2 separate regions of the Homo sapiens genome follow, and region 1 is linked to region 2. Evidence: fine-mapped expression QTL. A gene starts in region 2. The other region holds a variant in brackets. All regions are shown on one strand. Distances are from middle to middle. Region 1 overlaps GRIN2D (glutamate ionotropic receptor NMDA type subunit 2D). Region 2 holds the start of GRIN2D (glutamate ionotropic receptor NMDA type subunit 2D).

Evidence for each region. PIP is the estimated chance that this variant, and not a neighbour inherited with it, causes the effect.
Region 1: its variant is fine-mapped to the expression of GRIN2D in whole blood (TOPMed, PIP 0.94).

Annotation. Positions count from the first base shown.
Region 1 is chr19:48,418,313-48,422,312 of GRCh38, reverse strand. It overlaps GRIN2D (glutamate ionotropic receptor NMDA type subunit 2D), which reads right to left. Exons shown (of 14, transcript NM_000836.4): 9 at 2,954-3,079; 10 at 2,499-2,728; 11 at 368-528. Among named protein-coding and RNA genes, the nearest start is that of GRWD1, 26 kb to the left of the region's middle. RefSeq lists enhancers at 2,590-2,829, 2,890-3,129, 2,880-3,646. The variant C/T (reference allele first, on the strand shown) is at 1,572.
Region 2 is chr19:48,391,255-48,395,765 of GRCh38, reverse strand. GRIN2D (glutamate ionotropic receptor NMDA type subunit 2D) reads right to left here and starts at 2,098. Exons shown (of 14, transcript NM_000836.4): 1 at 1,898-2,098; 2 at 830-1,108. KDELR1 (KDEL endoplasmic reticulum protein retention receptor 1) reads left to right here and starts at 4,215. Exons shown (of 5, transcript NM_006801.3): 1 at 4,215-4,498. The coding sequence starts at 4,408. RefSeq lists a silencer at 4,059-4,378.

The DNA of each region.
Region 1 (4,000 bases), 27 kb before region 2:
AACAACCTTATGATCATTACAGTGGGGATACTCTTGTTATCCTCATTTTACAGAGGAGGAAACAGAGGTTCAGAGAGGCTGAGTAACTTGCCCAAGGTCACAAAGCCAAGAAGGGGAAGAGCAAAGATTTGAGCCCCATCAGTCTCACCCCAGAATCCAGAAATACTGCATCCCAGAAAATATCCCAAGGAGCCTGCTCCTGGGAGGAGGAGTCCACTTCCACCCTCAGTGACCTCCGCCCTCCAAGCTGACCCACCCAGGGCTGACCTCTGGGACTGAATGAATGAACCTGGACCCCTTGCCATCTTTGAGCATCCTCAGGTCCCCAGCGGCCCAACCCCCACCCCCGGCCCGAGTCTGCGCTGACCCTGCCTTGAGCTGAGTGAGCGCTTCCTCTACGCGGGGCTGGTTGTAGCGCACCATGTAGCTGTGCATGTCGGGATAGTTGCTGCGGATGTTCTTCTCCGTGGAGCCGTTGGGCACGGTCCCAAACTTCAGGGGCGGGTACTGCTCCTGGGGCCTCTGGAACTGGGGCAGAATGGGGAGTGATTAGGGCACCCTCCGCAGGGACATCCCTAACATAAATCACCCATTCTGAGACACACCCGCTATCTGGCAGACACCCCAGTCCCAGGAGTGTTCAATATTTCTCAACACTCGCTCACTACATTAGGGAATGCTTTTCCACTCCCACCCAGCACACACGGTTGCAGACACGTGATCCAAAAGTTCACGAGAAGCCTCCCTGAGGCCCCTGATGTGCCAGGTGTTAAGTCTTCACTTACTGAATCGCGGGAGGTCCTGGGAGTAGAGGCTGGCATGGCAGGAGCTGGGAGCTGTTGCTATTTACCAATCCGTTCAGAAATAGTTCACTTTTTTTTTTTTAAACGGAGTCTTGCTCTTGTTGCCCAGGCTGGAGTGCAATGGCACACTGTCAGCTCACTGCAACCTCCGCCTCCCAGGTTCAACTGATTCTCCTGCCTCAGCCTCCCGAGTAGCTGGGATTACAGGCACATACCACCATGCCCAGCCAGTTTTGTATTTTTAGTAGAGATGGGGTTTCTCCATGTTGGTCAGGCTGGTCTCGAACTACCAACCTCAGGTGATCCGCCCGCCTTGGCCTCCCAAAGTGCTGGGATTACAGGCATAAGCCACCGCGCCCAGACAACTAAAACAAGTTTTGTAAAACCAAACTTATACATAAGATGCAGGCAACTATTCTATTCTACTCCATTCCATTAAAAAATGCTTATTGCAACCCATCAAACTGATTTCTCAAGCCTCTAATAGGTCATGACACCCAGCTAGTTAATCACTTTAGTCTCAAAGTATGCTCTGCAAACCACCAGTCCCTCAACAAACGGTGATTGCAGTGAGATGTGTACAGGAATGGAGAGAGTGAGCATTTAGAGTGATTTGACAGAATTCTTTTTCGTCTGTTGAATCTAATAAATAAAAATGTGAGTTTGGCTTTTTTTTAGGCAGAGTCTCGCTCTGTCACCCAGGCTAGGAATCAGTTCTATTTGTGGCGTAATCATGGCTCACTGTAACCTCCGCCTCCCGGGTTCAAG[C/T]GATTCTCCTGCCTCAGCCTCCCAAGTAGCTGGGACTACAGGCACCCACTACCACGCCTGGCTAATTTTTGTATTTTTATTAGAGACGAGGTTTCACTATGTTGGCCAGGCTGGTCTCGAACTCCTGACCTCAGGTGATCCACCCACCTCGGCCTCCCAAAGTGCTGGGATTACAGGCGTGAGCCACCGTTCCTGGCCAGGTTTGACTTTTGTCTGTCTTGGTTTTAGATCTTATTTTACTTTTCTAATAATTCATTTCCGTTGAATTTTACAAAAGCATTGTCTGCAATGGACTAGCAGTTTTTTGTTTTTTTGAGACAGAGTCTAACTCTGTCGCGCTGGCTGGAGTGCAGTGGGGCGATCTCGGCTCACTGCAAGCTCTGCCTCCTGGGTTCACGCCATTCTCCTGCCTCAGCCTCCCGGGTAGCTGGGACTACAGGTGCCTGTCACCACGCCCGGCTAATTTTATGTACTTTTAGAAGAGACGGGGTTTCACCGTGTTAGCCAGGATGGTCTCGATCTCCTGACCTCGTGATCCGCCCGCCTCGGCCTCCCAACGTGCTGGGATTACAGGTGTGAGCCACCGCGCCCAGCCTTAGAAGTTTCAAAAATTAATCCTTCCTCACAGTTTGAGAGAAGCACTGGTTCTAGAATATCCTATTTGACACAACTGCCCCTAGAACATTCAGGGACACCCTCTTCCCTAGGAATATTTTAAATAGCTCATCGTGAACCGTGTTCTTTCTTCATCCACAACATTCCATTCTACCATTCTGGAATTCTCCTTGGGAAGAGACCCCTTCCCGCCCTCCCCCCACCCCTCTCACCCCCGCCCCCCGCAAGAATCCCCTCTAATCTACCACATGACAAGCTCTGTGACCTCCAGCCCCAGCCCCAGCTCCAGCCCAGCCCTGGGCCCACACACACCTTGCGGTCACTGAGCCCAGACACAGTATCCACGTACTCCTCCTGGATCATGAAGGCGGCCAGGTTGGCTGTGTAGCTGGCGAGGAAGATGACGGCGAAGAAGGCCCACACCAGCACCATGATTTTGCTGGTGGTTCCCCGGGGGTTCTCCACGGGCACCGAATTATTGAACACCAGGGCCCAGAGCAGCCAGATGGATTTCCCAATGGTGAAGGTTGAACCGCCAGGGCCTGCAGGGGGCCAGGACGTGGACATGGACCCCAAATCCCTTCTCAATAAGGAAGGGAAAAAAAAAAAAAGAAAGAACTACAATTCCCAGTGGCCCTCAAGGCATCTGGCACCTCCCGAGAGGCCCTAGCTTGACCGCCCCCCCTCCAGGGGCTGCTGGGAAATGTAGTTCTCTGTCTCTGTGGTTCGGGATCTCCGAGGCGGGGGATGGAGGAAGGGGGACTCACGCTTGCCCGTGGCCAGGCTGCGGTTGTAACCAACAGGACTGAGGTACTCGAAGATGAAAACAGTGACGGCGACCACAGTGAGGCACATGACGAACATCATCACCCACACGGCGGGGCTGTAGGGCTCTGGGGACAAGGGAGTGCGTGGTTATGGCTCAGCCAAGCAAAAGACTCGGGGATCAGGCTGGGGCGGTGCCTCACGCCTGTACTCCCAGAACTTTGGGAGGCTGAGGCAGGAGGATCACTTGACGCCTGGAGTTCAAGACCAGACTGGCCTTGAACTCCCTGTCTCTACAAAAAAAAAAAAGGAAGAAAAAAGAAAGAAAAAAAACCCTAGGGTACTACCAGCAGGGAACAAGGTGCAGCCCAGATCTGACCCCATCCTATTCTGGCCCTATCTCTGCTTCTCCATCTCCAAGATAGTCTTATGGCACACCCATACCCCTAGGAGGCAGCCATTCTCAAAGAGAGCCGTCGCAGGCATTTCTGTGGTTTCAGCCACCAAATAGAAACTGTCTCCTAAATGTTTCCTGAGTCACAGGCCCAAGCCTCCACCTACCCCAGCCATCTCCTCAGGCCATTCATCATGTCCCATGCTGAGCCCAGACCAGCTCCCACGCTCCTCATGATGGGAGCCCCACCATCCACCCAGTCACAGGCCCAAACCTCATTTGCCGTCCTCCCTTCCTCCCTCCTTCTCCCTCGCTGGCCACAGCCTGTCAGTATCCAGCCCCACGCTCCTGCCCCTGATGCTACTTGGGCCTCTCCTCTCCATTCTCATGGCCAACAGGGCTCAGGCCTCATCTCCTCCCACCAACCATTTCCCCAGCCTCCTGAGCTCCTGTCTGTCCCCTACAGCCTATCCCCCACACAGCACAGAGAGGACCTGGCCCCTCCCCTGCTTACAGCCCTCCCCAGGCTCCCTAGCACCCCCAGGACAAAGTCCCTGCCACTCAGCCTTGTCACACTCTCCTTTCTGTCCTGATCACTCTCTCAAGCACCCATGCTTTACTCAAAACTCACAGGTGGCTGGGTGTGGTGGTTCAC
Region 2 (4,511 bases):
TCCTTCCCAACATCCTGGGTGCCCCCCCACCGAGCTCTGGCCTCCCTAGTCACCCCACTTAGATCCTGTACATAGCACAGCCTGTCCCCAAGCGGGGAGGAGGAGGAGGGTGCCAGAAATTCCTAGGGTGTCCCTGTCTTCATTGCCCCCCACAGCATCCAACAGAGAAGAGAGGAGCGGCCACTTCGATCAACAGCTCCCCCCACAACCTCGAGTTGTGCTGCAGACGGCATCCCGTTTCCTCCCCCCTCACCTCCCAACACACACACACAACATCGGTCTCTCCCCACCCGAATCCTGATGCTTGGAAGAGGCTGGAAGGGTGTTCCAGAACCTTGAGGAAGGGGTGGGAGCTTGGGGCGAGGGGTGCTGGGGGCCTGGATGCCCTCAAGGTCCTTGGCGGGGGTATTAATAGCAGACTCATAGCTCTGACATGGGAGGGGAGAGCGAGAGGAGAGAGGGAGAGGACCGGCTCGCGATGGGGGGACTGATGCAGGGAGGGGGGTACAGGGAGAAGGTGAGATAGAGAGATGGAGGCACAGGGATATGGGGCATCAGGTATGTGGGGATGGGGAGAGGGAGCCAAGTGTCAGAGAAATGGGGGCGTGAAAGGTCTGAGGTGTAGGGACTCAGGAAAAAGGGGCTCAGAGAGGGAGAGAGAGAGGGTGGAGGAGAGTCCCTGAGGGACAGGGGAGCTAGGTGGGGGTCAAGACCCCTGCCCACCGTTCAAACCCCCTCCCTCCACGAGGCTTCTTGCCAACTTCCTCTGTCCTAGATTTGGGGGTCCACATTCCCACCACCATCCCTGCATCCCCTGTCCCCGCCTTACCTTTTCATGACCCTGTTCTGTTGGGGGGATGGCGGGGGGGCCAGGACCGGAACCCGGCGTCCAGCGACCCCAAGATTCCGAGGAGGGCTCAGAGAGCCGATGTCGGGGGGCAGGCCCCGGGGCGGCGGCAGTGGTGGTGGCGGCAGCAGCGGCAGCCCGGACCTCCTGTCTGTCCCTGGCTCCGTCTCTCCTTCCTCTTCCTTGGTCCTGTCCTGCCCTGTCTCTCCCCCAAGGTTGCGGCCACCTGGACTAGGCGAGGACGTGGCTACACATGTTGCTCTGGAAGTTGGGCCCCGGACATTGCAGAGGCTGTCGGGGTGTCCTCTTGCCGCCCCGACCCCGTGGGGATCCCCCCTCCGCCCACCCGGGGTGCCCCCCTCTGCCGCTTCAGCCCCGGCTCCTCCCCCCTTTCCATGTGTCCAGTCCCGCCTCTCCCTGGCTCACTCGCACCCCCGCTTTGTGCCCTCAGCCCCCCCACCCCCCCTTCCAGCGTCTGTGTCTATCTGTCTGTCTGGGTCACCTCTGAAGCTAGTGGCTGGTGTGTGCGTGTGAGGAGCGGGAGATTGCCTGCTTGGGGAACTGCTTGCCCCTTCCTCGCTTGGCCACCTCTAGACCCCCCCTTGACTCCCCCACTCTCAAACACAGGCAGAAACACACATACACTCACGCACACACGCACGATCTCACTTCCCTGGGATTCCCCCTCAACACCCCCAGAGCTTGAGGAGGGACACACACACAGACACACACACACAGAGTGGGGGGTCTAATGGGGGCCAGGCTGCCACTGCTGATAGGGGCTGTTTGGACAGACAGGAGGACACAGGCAGCCGGGGACGCCCAGACGCCTGGCCGGACGCAGGCAGGAGGCACAGAACCCAGGTACACACCATCCATCTGGGTTTGGGGGGGCCGGGGGGAAGGAGCGGGAGCCCCACGACACCCAGGCAGGCAGCTCAGGGTCGGTACAGACAGACAGACCCCTCCCTCCCTCCGCCGCCGCAGCGCTTACAGACACACCCCCCCTCCACCAGCCAGCCCCAGACACCCGGACACACAGATCCTCACCGGGCAGATGGCAGACGCTCGAGAGACCCCTGGGGGCCGGGCCGACCTACCCAGGCAACACCCCCAGCAGGCACCGGTGGCCGAGGGAGGCTGCGGGAGGCTGCGGGCGAGGGTGGCGGCGGCGGCCGCGGCTTGGAGGAGCTGGAGCGGGAGGGACTCACACACTCGCTGTGTTCTCGCACACACACACTCACTCGGGATGCGATTAACATTCAGTCCCCGTCTGCCACTGCCGGGAGACCCACAGCCCCCCCTCCTGGCCTCCCTGGGGACCCCTTCTCCTGCCAGGCTTGGGGAGGGGGCCGCCCCCCACCCCTAGCTACCAGCCTCTGCCTTCCTCCTGGGACAAGGGAGTGAGGGGCTGAAAATAAAAAGGGAGGAAGAAGTCAGGCTGGGGACAGGCAGGCAGGGACTCAGAACCCGGTATGGAGACACCAGCTTCAGAGCTAGACTCCAGGGCTGGGGGTTGCTGCCCTCTGCCCCCGCCCTGCCTTGAGGCTCTGGAAACAGGAGGCCTTTCCCTGACTTCAGTGTTCGCCACACTAAGACCCAAGCTGTGGCTTTTATTGCCCCAGAAGGCCAGGCCTGAAAACCAGGTCTCGACCCTGGTCCCAGGAGTCCCACCCCCCAGCCCCTCCTCCCTCAGACCCAGGAGTCCCCTTCTCTACTGGGACCCAGGAATTTGGGGACCGCCTCCAAGTCGGAGTCTCTTTTAAGGACTCAGTCATCCCGACTCTCCCCCGTACAAGCCACCCTCAGGGACCCAAGACTCGTGGATGTCACCCTTGGGCACCCCGTCCTTCCAGCCCTCTGAAGAAATCAACACGCCTGCACCCCTTCTTTTATTGAGGGACCCTGGCCTCCATCATCTGTGGGTACCCCATCATCCGGAAGGGAAGCCACGTCTGTCCCCTCATAGATGCAGGAGTCCAGACCACAGGCTGTTCCCCGGGGGTCCCACACCCAGATGCCCAGCATTCCCCTCCTGCTAGAGGGCTGGGCCCGGCACTTTTATAAAGCCACCCGTGGGGCTCTGGGGTAGAGCGTGGGGCAGGACACCGGGGCCTCTGAGGGTGGAAGAGGGTGTGTGTGTGTGGGCAGGGCAGAAACTCTGGAGCAGGGGGGAAGCCAGGGCCAGGGGCTCCTGAGGTAGTTTGGGTCAGAGTTTTGGCCTTGAGCCTCCTGGGTGAGGCTCCTGTTTCCTTCATCCTCAAGGTCTGGGAGAACAGGGTGAGGTGCACATTCCTGAAAAAGAAGAGAATCAGGGCCTAAATCTGTGGGTCGTAAAGGGAGAAACTGTAGATCTAGATTCTTAAGGTTAGGATGTTTGATCCATAAGATGGTGGGGGTGGGACCCTAAGTTCCAAGGAACAGCGTCCTAGGAGGGAAAAGGGCTGGGGCCCTGAACTCCTGGGTCTGAGGGAGGAGGGGCTGGGGCCCTGGACCCCTGGGTCTGAGGGAGGAGGGGCTGGGGCCCTGGACCCCTGGGTCTGAGGGAGGAGGGGCTGGGGCCCTGGACCCCTGGGTCTGAGGGAGGAGGGGCTGGGGATCTGGACTCCTGGGTCTGAGGGAGGAGGTGCTGGGGGTCTGGACTCCTGGGTCTGAGGGAGGAAGGGCTGGGGGCCTGGACTCCTGGATCTGGGGGAGGAGGGTCTGGGGGCCTGGAGTCCTGGGTCTGAGGGAGGAGGCTGGGGGCCTGGACTCCTGGGTCTGAGGGAGGAGGCTGGGGGCCTGGACTCCTGGGTCTGAGCGAGGAGGAGCTGGGCCTGGACTCCTGGATCTGAGGGAGGAGGGGCTGGGGGTCTGGACTTCTGGGTCTGAGGGAGGAGAGGCTGGGGGTCTGGACTCCTGGGTCTGAGGGAGGAGGGGCTGGGGACCCAGACTTCTGGGTTTGACGAACGGGCTGGGGCCTTGAGTCCTGGGTCTAGGGGAGGAAGTAGGTGGGGTATCTTTCTTGTCTTCTGGGGGATTGGAGTTAGAGTGCCTGAAAGCTGCAAAAGCTAGCAGCTGAGCCTCCGGGTCCCTGCAGGATTTTTCAAGCTCAGAGGGCAGTCTCTACATCCCTGCAAGGGCTGAGGCTGGTGTACTGGACTGCGTCTCTTCCAGAGACACAGACTGCCTGGGCGAACCGGTGCTGGATTTGGCACTTTCCGAACCCTGCGACCCTCCCAAGTTCCTATGGGGCAGCTTTGGGGGTGCGTTTAGCGCCGCCACGGCAAAGCAGGAGGTGGGCGATAGGGGGCGCCGGGGATCCAGGCCCCGCCCTCGGGGGCGGAGCCTCTCCTCCCGGACTCCTCCCCCTCTCGCTCTCCTCCCTCTTCCCGGCTCCAGCTCCGCCGCCAGCTCCAGCCTTTGCTCCCCCTCCCAAAGTCCCCTCCCCGGAGCGGAGCGCACCTAGGGTCCCTCTTCCGTCCCCCCAGCCCAGCTACCCGTTCAGACCAGCAGCCTCGGGGGGCACCCCCCCGCCAGCCTGCCTCCCTCCCGCTCAGCCCTGCCAGGGTTCCCCAGCCATGAATCTCTTCCGATTCCTGGGAGACCTCTCCCACCTCCTCGCCATCATCTTGCTACTGCTCAAAATCTGGAAGTCCCGCTCGTGCGCCGGTGAGAGGCCCAC